2 separate regions of the Homo sapiens genome follow, and region 1 is linked to region 2. Evidence: fine-mapped expression QTL. A gene starts in region 2. The other region holds a variant in brackets. All regions are shown on one strand. Distances are from middle to middle.

Region 1 (5,322 bases), 73 kb before region 2:
AGGGTACATTGTAGAGCCGAACTTTGAGTTACTGTGCAAGATTTTTTTTTCATGCTGTCATTTGTAATATGTTTTGTGAGAATCCTTGGGATTAAAGTTTTGGTTACAAATTGTTCTTTAACTTGAAAGCCTGTTTTTCCTTGCAAACTCAAATCTGTGAGCTTGGTACCAAGTCCAGGTATAACATTCCTATTGGAAGCCATACTTATATTTTCTTGTAAAGTGCTTTTGAATTAATAAAATATTAGCATAATTGTGTATAGTCAGTTGAACCCACTGTTACCATTGTTCTTATCCCATGGGAAGCAGTTGGTTACACGATTCTTATTTTATAAGAAACAGCTGAGAGGCACTATGGATTAGTCTTCTGAAGTGAAGGAAATATAGATGTCACCTAAGTGATAGTTAACCCATTTTTTTTTTTTTTAGGCATAGAAGCCAGTTCAGGGTCCATAATATTTAGTGACCAACATTTTAAAGTATAGCAGCAACCTGGTTCTTAAACACAAAGTAAGTTGCCCATTAACAAATGGCTTTTATCTTTAGCATGAAAACTTTCCACAGGTCTAAAAATTGCTTCCATTTTATAATTTGAGGTGTTGCATGGGAATTCTAAGCTGATCCATCATGATGTAAAAGTTCACAATATGGTTCAAATGTAACAGTGCAGAATTGAATATGGAGGCATGCATAACCTTCCTCTTAGAAAATGGCAGGTGTTGTAATTTCAAATTTTTGTGCAATTAGATTAAATCATAATGCAACAGTCTTGTGGCTTAGTTTCCTTAAATATGCTCTTAAGATAGTTTTGGATTATGCGGTATTGACTGTCTTAAATATGAAAGATAAGTCATTGCATTAAGAGTTCAAGCTAAATGGATACATTAAGATACAGTTCCTAAACAAATTATTTATTTCCACCTTTTACACAAATCTTGGGAGAATTGGTGTCAGGAAGGTTCAGCCTTAAAGTTAAGCATGTTCAAGAAAGACACTTTTCAGACAGCCTGTTTATTTACTGAGAGCTCTGGCATTGGGCATTTTGTCTTTAGTATTCTCACATAGCCTACAACCTGTTCCTGTTAGGAACAAGCCAAGATAGCTAAGAAGTTACGGAAGCCATGCAATATGTCAATTACATTGCTTTTTATAAATGGACAACTTATGTGGGCATTTTTGGGCAGTATATGACTTCCTTGCAGGCTCTTAAGTTGGAAGGGTTTCTGTAAAAAGGACAGTTACGGGTATAATATGGCTAAGAGAAATAATACAGAACCTGAAATAAAAGTAACTTCACCAGGGAGTTATCCTGACTTAGGTGACATACAGTCCCAGTTGGCAGTTACTTTAACCAGGAGCCCTAGCATAACCTCAAGACTCTTAGAAACTTTAGAACATGGAAATTGTTAAAAGCTTTGAATTGCACATTTAGATTGTGGCTATTAGGAATTTTTAAAGTTGTAATTCCTAAAATAACAGGTCACACTAACCGGTCTTGTCCATATTCAGGGTTGAGTGTAAAAATGAAAGGAATCACAAAACTGAACTTAGACCTGTGGTTTAAGGATCAAGGTGTTCACTAGAAGTCACTGTTACTAATACTTGATGACAATGTAAAGAAACATTAAGGATTATATTTGATTGTTTTCAAAGACACTGGCTGGATGTGGTGGCTCACACTTGTAATTCCTAGCACTTTGGGAGGCTAGGGCGGGTGGGAGGATCTCTTGAAGCCAGGAGTTGGAGACCAGTCTGCCCAACATGGCAAGATTCACATTTCTATTAAAAGGAATATTTAGTTTGATCTCTGGTTCACAGTTCATTGTGGGTTGCTTCTGACCTCCATGTCTTAAGCAGAAAGTAGGGAAGTTGTAGTTTTACCAAGCACAGGTACCCTGT[G/A]TCTACCATTTGAGTATCTTAGAGATCCTTACAAACGTGATCCCGTCAGCGTCCATGACACTCCCACCCTGTTAGACTGCTGTCAGTGGCTTTCACACAAACCCATATGTGGATGGAAAATCCAGGTTATTACTACATTCATTTTAGTACAGTGCTGCCTAATTAGAAATTTTGTTGAAGAGGTATTTCAGAATAGATACAGCCAGACTCCAGGCTCATTGACTTAGTTTTTCAGGGTGACCTAACCCTGTGTAATTTTGAGGAGTTCTACATGATAAATACCCTTGGTGATGTGAGAACCACTAGTTTAGTATTTTGTCCAAGTATGCTTTTTTTCAGAGTTCTGAATGAGATTTAGTTGTCATACCTAGTTGGTGGTAATTTCTTAGTTGTATATTTTTGTACTACCAGATTGTTGCCTTCTGGTTTTCCATCTTTTCGAGAAAGATTTCTAGTTAAAGTTACTGAAGAAAAACTGGGTTGGAAGTACATTTTTCTCTAAATAATCCAGTAGTGTTGAATTTGATTTTATGTCCACTCTAATTTTTTTCATCCTGTTTTATTAGGGGGATTCATCGGGTACCTGAAGATAATTCAGCTGTAGACCCCTTAAGGTTCTGAGACAAGGTCATTGAAATTTGTTTTGGCTGGGTGTGATGGCTCATGCCTGTAATCCCGGTGCATTGGGAGGTTGAGGCAGGTGGATCACTTGTGGTCAGGAGTTGGAGACCAGCTTGGTCAACATGGTGAAACCCCGTCTCTACTAACAGTACAAAAATTAGCTGGGTGTGGTGGCAGGCGCCTATAATGCCAGCCACTTGGGAGGCTGAGGCAGGAGAAGTGCTTAAACCTGGTGGGTGGAGGTTGCCATGAGCCGAGATGTAGCCACTTCACTCCAGCCTGAGTGAAAGCAAAACTTCGTCTCCAAAAAAAAAAAAAAAGTTTGTTTTGGTAAGCCTAGTATAATTGATTAGTTTTGTCCATGCAACTTTCCCCTTGTTGGACTCTGTACTTAATAATACAGTATTTAGATTCTCATTTAGTATCCTGCTTTCTCTGTCGATTTGATGAAGGTACCCAAAATGATTCCTAAACTAACACATGAAATACGTGTGTAAAACATTGCTGTTTTAATCTTTAGTTTTCCTCATTTCTGATGTAAGGCATTGTATAGTTGTTCTACTATAAAAGATGTAGAATATGGCCATGTAGTGCCTCACTGTAAGTTAGTACATGTGTCTTGAGCAAGTGGAAATATCAAAACATTGATACTTTGCTTCTCCCTAATCATTTGGAATGTCCTGAGATGGATACTATTTCCAGGGCAAAATTAAACCTTCCAGAAAAGTAGTCTATAGGTTGAAGGAGTCCTCCTCTTTTGAAAGCCTTGTTCATTTGTGGTTGTGCACCTTTATTTCAGTATATACTTCATTCAGATTTCATCTGGGGCAAGTTAGCATTCCTGTTTTTGTTTTGTTTTTTGAGACCAGTGGTGACATAGCTTACTGCAGCCTTGGCTTCTTGGGCTCAAGCGTTCCTCCCACCTCAGTCTCCCAAGTAGCTAGGACTACAGTCACACACCACCATGCCCAGCTAATTAAAAACTTTTTTTAAGAGACGTGGTTATGTTTCTCAGGCTGGTCTGGAACTCCTCAAGCGATCCTTCTGCCTCAGCCTCCCAAAGCGCTGGGATTACAGGCCTGAGTCACCTTTCCCTGGCCAAGTTAGCGTTGTTCACTGTTTTTTTATTTGCTCACAAAGCCCCAAAATGTAGAGCTAAGGGGAATGTTGTTGAAGTTGTTGCCTAATGCTGCCTGGAGCTGGGCAGTGGCAATGGGGGGTCGGGGAGGGGGTGGGGTGGAGATGTGAAGTTTATATTGGTCATTTGGAGAAGGAAATATTTGAATATTTTAAAAAAATGTTATGTAAGTCTTGAGATACAGAAGTTTATTTTTTATTTAATGTTATTTATGTATTTTTTTTTTTTTTTGAGATGGAGTCTCTCTTTGTCACCCAGGCTGGAGTGCTGTGGCTCGATCTCGGCTCACTGCCACCTTCGCCTCCCGGGTTCAAGCAATTCTCCTGCCTCAGCCTCCCGAGTAGCTGGGACTACAGGCGCGTGTCACCACGCCCAGCTGCTTTTTGTATTTTTAGTAGAGCCAGGGTTTCACCATGTTAGCCAAGCTGATCTTGAACTCCTGACCTCAAGTGATCCGCCTGCCTCGGCCTCCCAGAGTGCTGGGATTACAGGCGTGAGCCACCGTGCCCGGCCTAGAAGTTTCATTTTTGAAAGAATAACTCCTTTGGGAAACAATTCTAAATCTTAAGCTCAGGCAGCTGGTAACTTTAAAAAACCTCATCCAGCTGGCTGGCTGCCACCAGAATCTCATAATGACATTTATTTTTAGTTTAGATAAAACTACCCATGTTTTCAATGAAAGTATTTTACAAATACAAATTGGAATGTTGATTTGTCATTTAATTGTTTCATAATTTTCCTACATGTCAAAAGTCCATGATACAAACACTGACTGGGATACAGTGATAAATCACAACACCAGCTCAATATCTAGAAAGAAAAATCTATATAATATTTGTGTTTGACTGGAGTGCAAGTTTAGGCTGTTGACCTTTAACAATTCATTTTCACCCCAGTTTTCTTTTTGGTTGGTTGGTTTTGAGACGGAGTCTCACTCTGTCACTCAGGCTGGAGTGCAGTGGTGTGATCTCAGCTCACTGCAATCTCTGCCTCCCAGGTTCAAGTGATTCTCCTGTCTCAGCCTCCTGAGCAGCTGGGACTACAGGTGCGCACCACCATGCCTGGCTAATTTTTTGGTATTTTTTAGTAGAGACGGGTTTCACCATATTGGCAAGGATGGTCTCGATGTCTTGACCTCATGATCCGCCCGCCTTGGCCTCTCAAAGTACTAGGATTACAGGCGTGAGCCACTGCGCCCCGCCCCAGGCTGTTTTTTATAAGATGGTATTTCACTGTTGCCCAGGCTGCACTCAAGGACCCCTCCAGCCTTGGCTGTAATCCCAAAGTGTTGGGATTATAGGCATGAGCCACTGCAACTGGCCATCCCAGTTCCAGAGCTCACATTCAAATGATAAGGAGAGACTAACCAATCTGAGGTGAAGAGGAAGAAATAAATGCCTTAATCATGAAATAGGGGTTTAGAGCCAGAAACAGTTGAGAATGTAAACTGCACTAGGATTTAGAGATAAAAGGGTTTATTTAAGTTTGAAGTGGGTCCAAATCTGATTGGTTTTTTTTTACTTTCCTTTAGCCATGTATTTGAACAAGCGTGTATAAGATAACTTGTCCAGCTTTAACACTGACAGGAAAGCCAAGAAGTTGGGAGTATTAGAGTGCATTGATGAATGGCTGGCTCGCTCATTCTAGCTGCTTGGAGTTTAATG
Region 2 (5,343 bases):
GTGAGCTGAGATTGTGCCACTGCTGACTTTGTCTCAAAAAACAAAACAAAACAAAAAAACAAAATGAAAACAAAAAGCCAGGGCTGCCTCTGCTCAATAATGTTCTATCTTTGTTCCGCCTCTTCTCTGGGGTCTCACTTCTTGGGAGCCTGTGTGAAGGTGAATTCCTCTGAAAGCTGACTGCCCCTATTTGGGACTCCCCAGTCTCTTTCTGAGAAATGGTGACATTGTTCCCAGCACTTCCTCTCCCTTCCTAGGCAGCTTCTGCAGCCACCACTGAGCCTTCCTCACATCCTCCTTCTTCAGGCTTGGGCTTTCCACCTTTCACCATTCCCCTACCCCATGCTGCTCCACCGCACTCTGGGGAGGGGGCTGGACTGGGCACTCTTGTCCCCCAGGCTGAGCCTCCCTCCATCCCTATGCTGCCTGCTTCCCAGGAACATGCTTGGGCAGCAGGCTGTGGCTCTGATTGGCTTTCTGGCCGTCAGGAACATGTCCCAACATGTTGAGCTCTGGCATAGAAGAGGCTGGTGGCTATTTTGTCCTTGGGCTGCCTGTTTTCAGGTGAGGAAGGGGATGGTAGGAGACAGGAGACCTCTAAAGACCCCAGGTAAACCTTAGCCTGTTACTCTGAACAGGGTATGTGATCTGCCAGCAGATCCTTGCGACAGGGCTGGGATCTGATGCATGTGTGCTTGTGTGAGTGTGTGCTGGGAGTCAGATTCTGTGTGTGACTTTTAACAGCCTGCTCCCTTGCCTTTTTCAGGGCAGAAGTCCTCCCTTAGAGTGTGTCTGGGTACACATTCAAGTGCATGGTTGCAAACTTTTTTTTTTAAAGCACTGAATAGTACTAGACACTTAGTAGGTACTTAAGAAATATTGAATGTCGTGGTGGTGGTGAGCTAGAAGTTATAAAAAAAATTCTTTCCCAAAAACAACAACAAAAAGAATTATTTCATTGTGAAGCTCAGTACCACAAAAATTTAAATAATTCATTACAAGCCTTTATTAAAAAAAATTTTCTCCCCAAAGTAAACAGACAGACAATGTCTAGTCTATTTGAAATGCCTGAAAGCAGAGGGGCTTCAAGGCAGTGGGAGAAGGTGCCTGTCCTCTGCTGGACATTTGACAACCAGCCCTTTGGATGGTTTGGATGTATAGGAGCGAAGGTGCAGACAGCAGTGGGGCTTAGAGTGGGGTCCTGAGGCTGTGCCGTGGCCTTTCTGGGGTTTAGCCACAATCCTGGCCTGACTCCAGGGCGAGGCAGGCCAAGGGGGTCTGCTACTGTGTCCTCCCACCCCTACCTGGGCTCCCATCCCCACAGCAGAGGAGAAAGAAGCCTGTCCTCCCCGAGGTCAGCTGCGTTAGAGGAAGAAGACTGGGCATGTCTGGGCAGAGATTTCCAGACTCTGAGCAGCCTGAGATGTCAGTAATTGTAGCTGCTCCAAGCCTGGGTTCTGTTTTTTAGTGGGATTTCTGTTCAGATGAACAATCCATCCTCTGCAATTTTTTAAAAGCAAAACTGCAAATGTTTCAGGCACAGAAAGGAGGCAAAGGTGAAGTCCAGGGGAGGTCAGGGGTGTGAGGTAGATGGGAGCGGATAGACACATCACTCATTTCTGTGTCTGTCAGAAGAACCAGTAGACACTTCCAGAATTGTCCTTTATTTATGTCATCTCCATAAACCATCTGCAAATGAGGGTTATTTGGCATTTTTGTCATTTTGGAGCCACAGAAATAAAGGATGACAAGCAGAGAGCCCCGGGCAGGAGGCAAAAGTCCTGTGTTCCAACTATAGTCATTTCTTTGCTGCATGATCTGAGTTAGGTCACCAGACTTCTCTGAGCCCCAGTTTCCCCAGCAGTGTATACGGGCTATGTGGGGAGTATTCAGGAGACAGACAACTCACTCGTCAAATCCTCCCCTTCCTGGCCAACAAAGCTGCTGCAACCACAGGGATTTCTTCTGTTCAGGTGAGTGTAGGGTGTAGGGAGATTGGTTCAATGTCCAATTCTTCTGTTTCCCTGGAGATCAGGTTGCCCTTTTTTGGTAGTCTCTCCAATTCCCTCCTTCCCGGAAGCATGTGACAATCAACAACTTTGTATACTTAAGTTCAGTGGACCTCAATTTCCTCATCTGTGAAATAAACGGGACTGAAAAATCATTCTGGCCTCAAGATGCTTTGTTGGGGTGTCTAGGTGCTCCAGGTGCTTCTGGGAGAGGTGACCTAGTGAGGGATCAGTGGGAATAGAGGTGATATTGTGGGGCTTTTCTGGAAATTGCAGAGAGGTGCATCGTTTTTATAATTTATGAATTTTTATGTATTAATGTCATCCTCCTGATCTTTTCAGCTGCATTGGGTAAATCCTTGCCTGCCAGAGTGGGTCAGCGGTGAGCCAGAAAGGGGGCTCATTCTAACAGTGCTGTGTCCTCCTGGAGAGTGCCAACTCATTCTCCAAGTAAAAAAAGCCAGATTTGTGGCTCACTTCGTGGGGAAATGTGTCCAGCGCACCAACGCAGGCGAGGGACTGGGGGAGGAGGGAAGTGCCCTCCTGCAGCACGCGAGGTTCCGGGACCGGCTGGCCTGCTGGAACTCGGCCAGGCTCAGCTGGCTCGGCGCTGGGCAGCCAGGAGCCTGGGCCCCGGGGAGGGCGGTCCCGGGCGGCGCGGTGGGCCGAGCGCGGGTCCCGCCTCCTTGAGGCGGGCCCGGGCGGGGCGGTTGTATATCAGGGCCGCGCTGAGCTGCGCCAGCTGAGGTGTGAGCAGCTGCCGAAGTCAGTTCCTTGTGGAGCCGGAGCTGGGCGCGGATTCGCCGAGGCACCGAGGCACTCAGAGGAGGTGAGAGAGCGGCGGCAGACAACAGGGGACCCCGGGCCGGCGGCCCAGAGCCGAGCCAAGCGTGCCCGCGTGTGTCCCTGCGTGTCCGCGAGGATGCGTGTTCGCGGGTGTGTGCTGCGTTCACAGGTGTTTCTGCGGCAGGTGAATGACGGGCGTGGGTCGGTGCGCGCTCGGCTTGCGCACACGGTGTCTCTAAGTGCGCGGGTGACGAGAGTCGGGATGTGCCGGAGACCCCGGGGCGGAGAGCGGGATTACAAGTACAGGAATCCCTGGTCACGCTCCCCGCCCCTGGAAACCCAGCTGGGGCGAGGGAGGGCGTGGACGGGACCGTTCTGGGAGCTCGCCTTTGGCTGCGGTTGGCTCCAGGCCCCAGGCGCAGTTTGCTCGCGGCGTGGGGATGAAGTCCGTGTCCCTGGAGGGGCCCAGGAAGGGCGAGGAAAGCGGAGTGGAGTAAGTTCGTCTAGGATCGGTCCCGGGTGGCTCTGGGATCCAATCTGCGCCGCCCTGGCCCAGGTCCCAGGTTCAGGTCCTTTACGCCACTGTGTCCACCACCTGGCTGAGCGCTGAGGTCAGCGCGGGCTGTTTCCTGGCCCTTGGGAATGTGCCAGGACCCGTCCCCTAAGGACTAGCGAGGAGGTGACTCACTGTGACAAGGAGACCCCAGGGAACGGACTGTATGAGGTCAGAACCCCGCCCGGGATGGGGTACAGCGGGACTCCAGAAGCCCTCTCCCCTGCCCCTTCGCGGTCTCCGTCCTCCCATCGGCACAGTGACCTATTTGGCTGGAACAGTTTGTTCCCAAGGAAGCCGGGCACTGGAGGTCCGGGACACCGCGTCGGGTCCCCGCTCCGCGGCGCGCTGTAGGGGTCGGGGAGTCACGGCCCTGCTCTGGGCGGGCTCTAACCAGCCTGTCAGTCGGGGAAGGGCAAGGGTCTCCTCTACCTCTTTCCCACCGCGGCCGGGAGAATCGCGGCCCAGCCTGTCCTCGGGTCGGGGCGCTGGACTCCGGGGCGGGAGCGGAGCCCACGCCTGGATGGGAGGCGGGGAGGGTTCATGTCTTTGAGGGGTGGGGGGTCTGGGGGGCACGACGCTGCTCAGGGCCTCTATCAGCTGCCTCGGGGGCTCAGGGCTTCCCGACCTAGCCCAGATTCCCTCTCCGAAAGCTACAGGGCTGAGCGGAGCAGGGGGGCGAGTCGCCCCCTGGGGCGCCGCCGCCTGGCGCGGACCACAGCGCGTCCTCTCCGTCCCAAACCCCTGGGGGACACTTGCGCCCTCTTCGTGAGGAAAAGCATCTTGGAGCTGGGTTAGGAACTTGGGGCGCCCAGGCAGCTTCCCCTCTCCTTGCCTCCCTCCACGTCGCGTTTCTGGGAGGACTTGCGAGCGGTTTTGTTTTCGTTGCTCCCGTCTATTTTTATTTTCCAGGGATCTGACTCATCCCGTGCTTTGGGCGTGGAGATAAGGTGGAGGGGCCGGCTCCCGGCGCGCGCGCGCGTGCGTGTCTGCGCGGGCGTGTGTGTGTGTGTGTGTGTGTGTGTGTGTGTGTGTGTCTGTGTCAGAGACGGCACAAGAGCGCGCGGTTTCCCAACAGCGGCGGGAGTTTCGGAAGCCTGGCCGGCTCAGCGTGACGTGTTCGCGGCCCCCCGGTCCCCTCCCATTCTCCCCCTCCCCACCCCAGGGTGACGCGCAGCCGGAGTGGAAGCAGTTTTGGCGGGCGAGCAGCGCCTTGCAGGAAACTGACTCATCACTACTCCCTCCAGCGGTCCGAGGCTCTGCCCACGCACCTCCCACTCCGCGCGTGATTTCCTGGAGGCCGGCGCCCCCTCCCGGCCCTGGCGGGAATAGCACACAGGCTTTCCCGCGGAGTGGGGCTGGCCGGCGCGAACCGCCGCGGCTACTCCTGGGCTCATCCGAGATCAACCCCTATGCCATTACCACCCCTTCAAAGGAGCACTCCTTAGGTTCAACAGTATTCACTGAGCTCTTACTGGAAATTAAAATATGGCTGAAGTCTAAGGCAGGAAGGCCAATAAAGGAGGCTATTTTTAATTGTTTCTAAAACAAGGGTTTGCGTTTCTGAGTTTTCTTTGGGCTGAAAGTTATTATGAGCATGAGAGCAGATTTTGATGGGGGAGGAGAGGCCTATGAGAGCCATAAGAGAAGGAGGGGTGGTAGAAGAGGAGAGGGTGCCTGCCTAGATCCTAGTCCTGTCTTGAACTCCCGAGAGCCAGGGAATATCCAGCACCTTGATGAAGCCCTAGGCGGGCGCCTCCTCCTTGTGCCTATGATGTATTGAGACCCAGAATGTCCATTTCAAACATACCAGTGTGTCTCCGCTTGGCTGGCAACCCAAGAGTGCCCATCTGAGGAATTGTGCCAAACACTTGCTTGAATCTTCAATCTGGATTAAGTTGGTCTCGGGAGGCAGGGCCTCAGCAATCTATATTTTGAAAAAACTCCCTAGGTGCTTTTCTTTCTTTCTTTTTTTCTTTCTTTCTTTCTTTCTTT

Evidence for each region. PIP is the estimated chance that this variant, and not a neighbour inherited with it, causes the effect.
Region 1: its variant is the best candidate, but not a certain one, in a credible set for the expression of CDKN1A in whole blood (TOPMed, PIP 0.53).

What each region holds. Positions count from the first base shown.
Region 1 is chr6:36,602,664-36,607,985 of GRCh38, forward strand. It overlaps SRSF3 (serine and arginine rich splicing factor 3), which reads left to right. Exons shown (of 6, transcript NM_003017.5): 6 at 1-2,937. Among named protein-coding and RNA genes, the nearest start is that of SRSF3, 11 kb to the left of the region's middle. The variant G/A (reference allele first, on the strand shown) is at 1,900.
Region 2 is chr6:36,675,961-36,681,303 of GRCh38, forward strand. It overlaps CDKN1A (cyclin dependent kinase inhibitor 1A), which reads left to right and starts at 2,754. Exons shown (of 3, transcript NM_000389.5): 1 at 2,754-2,838. It overlaps DINOL (damage induced long noncoding RNA), which reads right to left and starts at 2,599. Exons shown (of 1, transcript NR_144384.1): 1 at 1,649-2,599. RefSeq lists enhancers at 266-355, 406-475, 455-1,654, 2,847-3,036, 3,048-3,635 and silencers at 2,567-2,796, 4,367-4,756.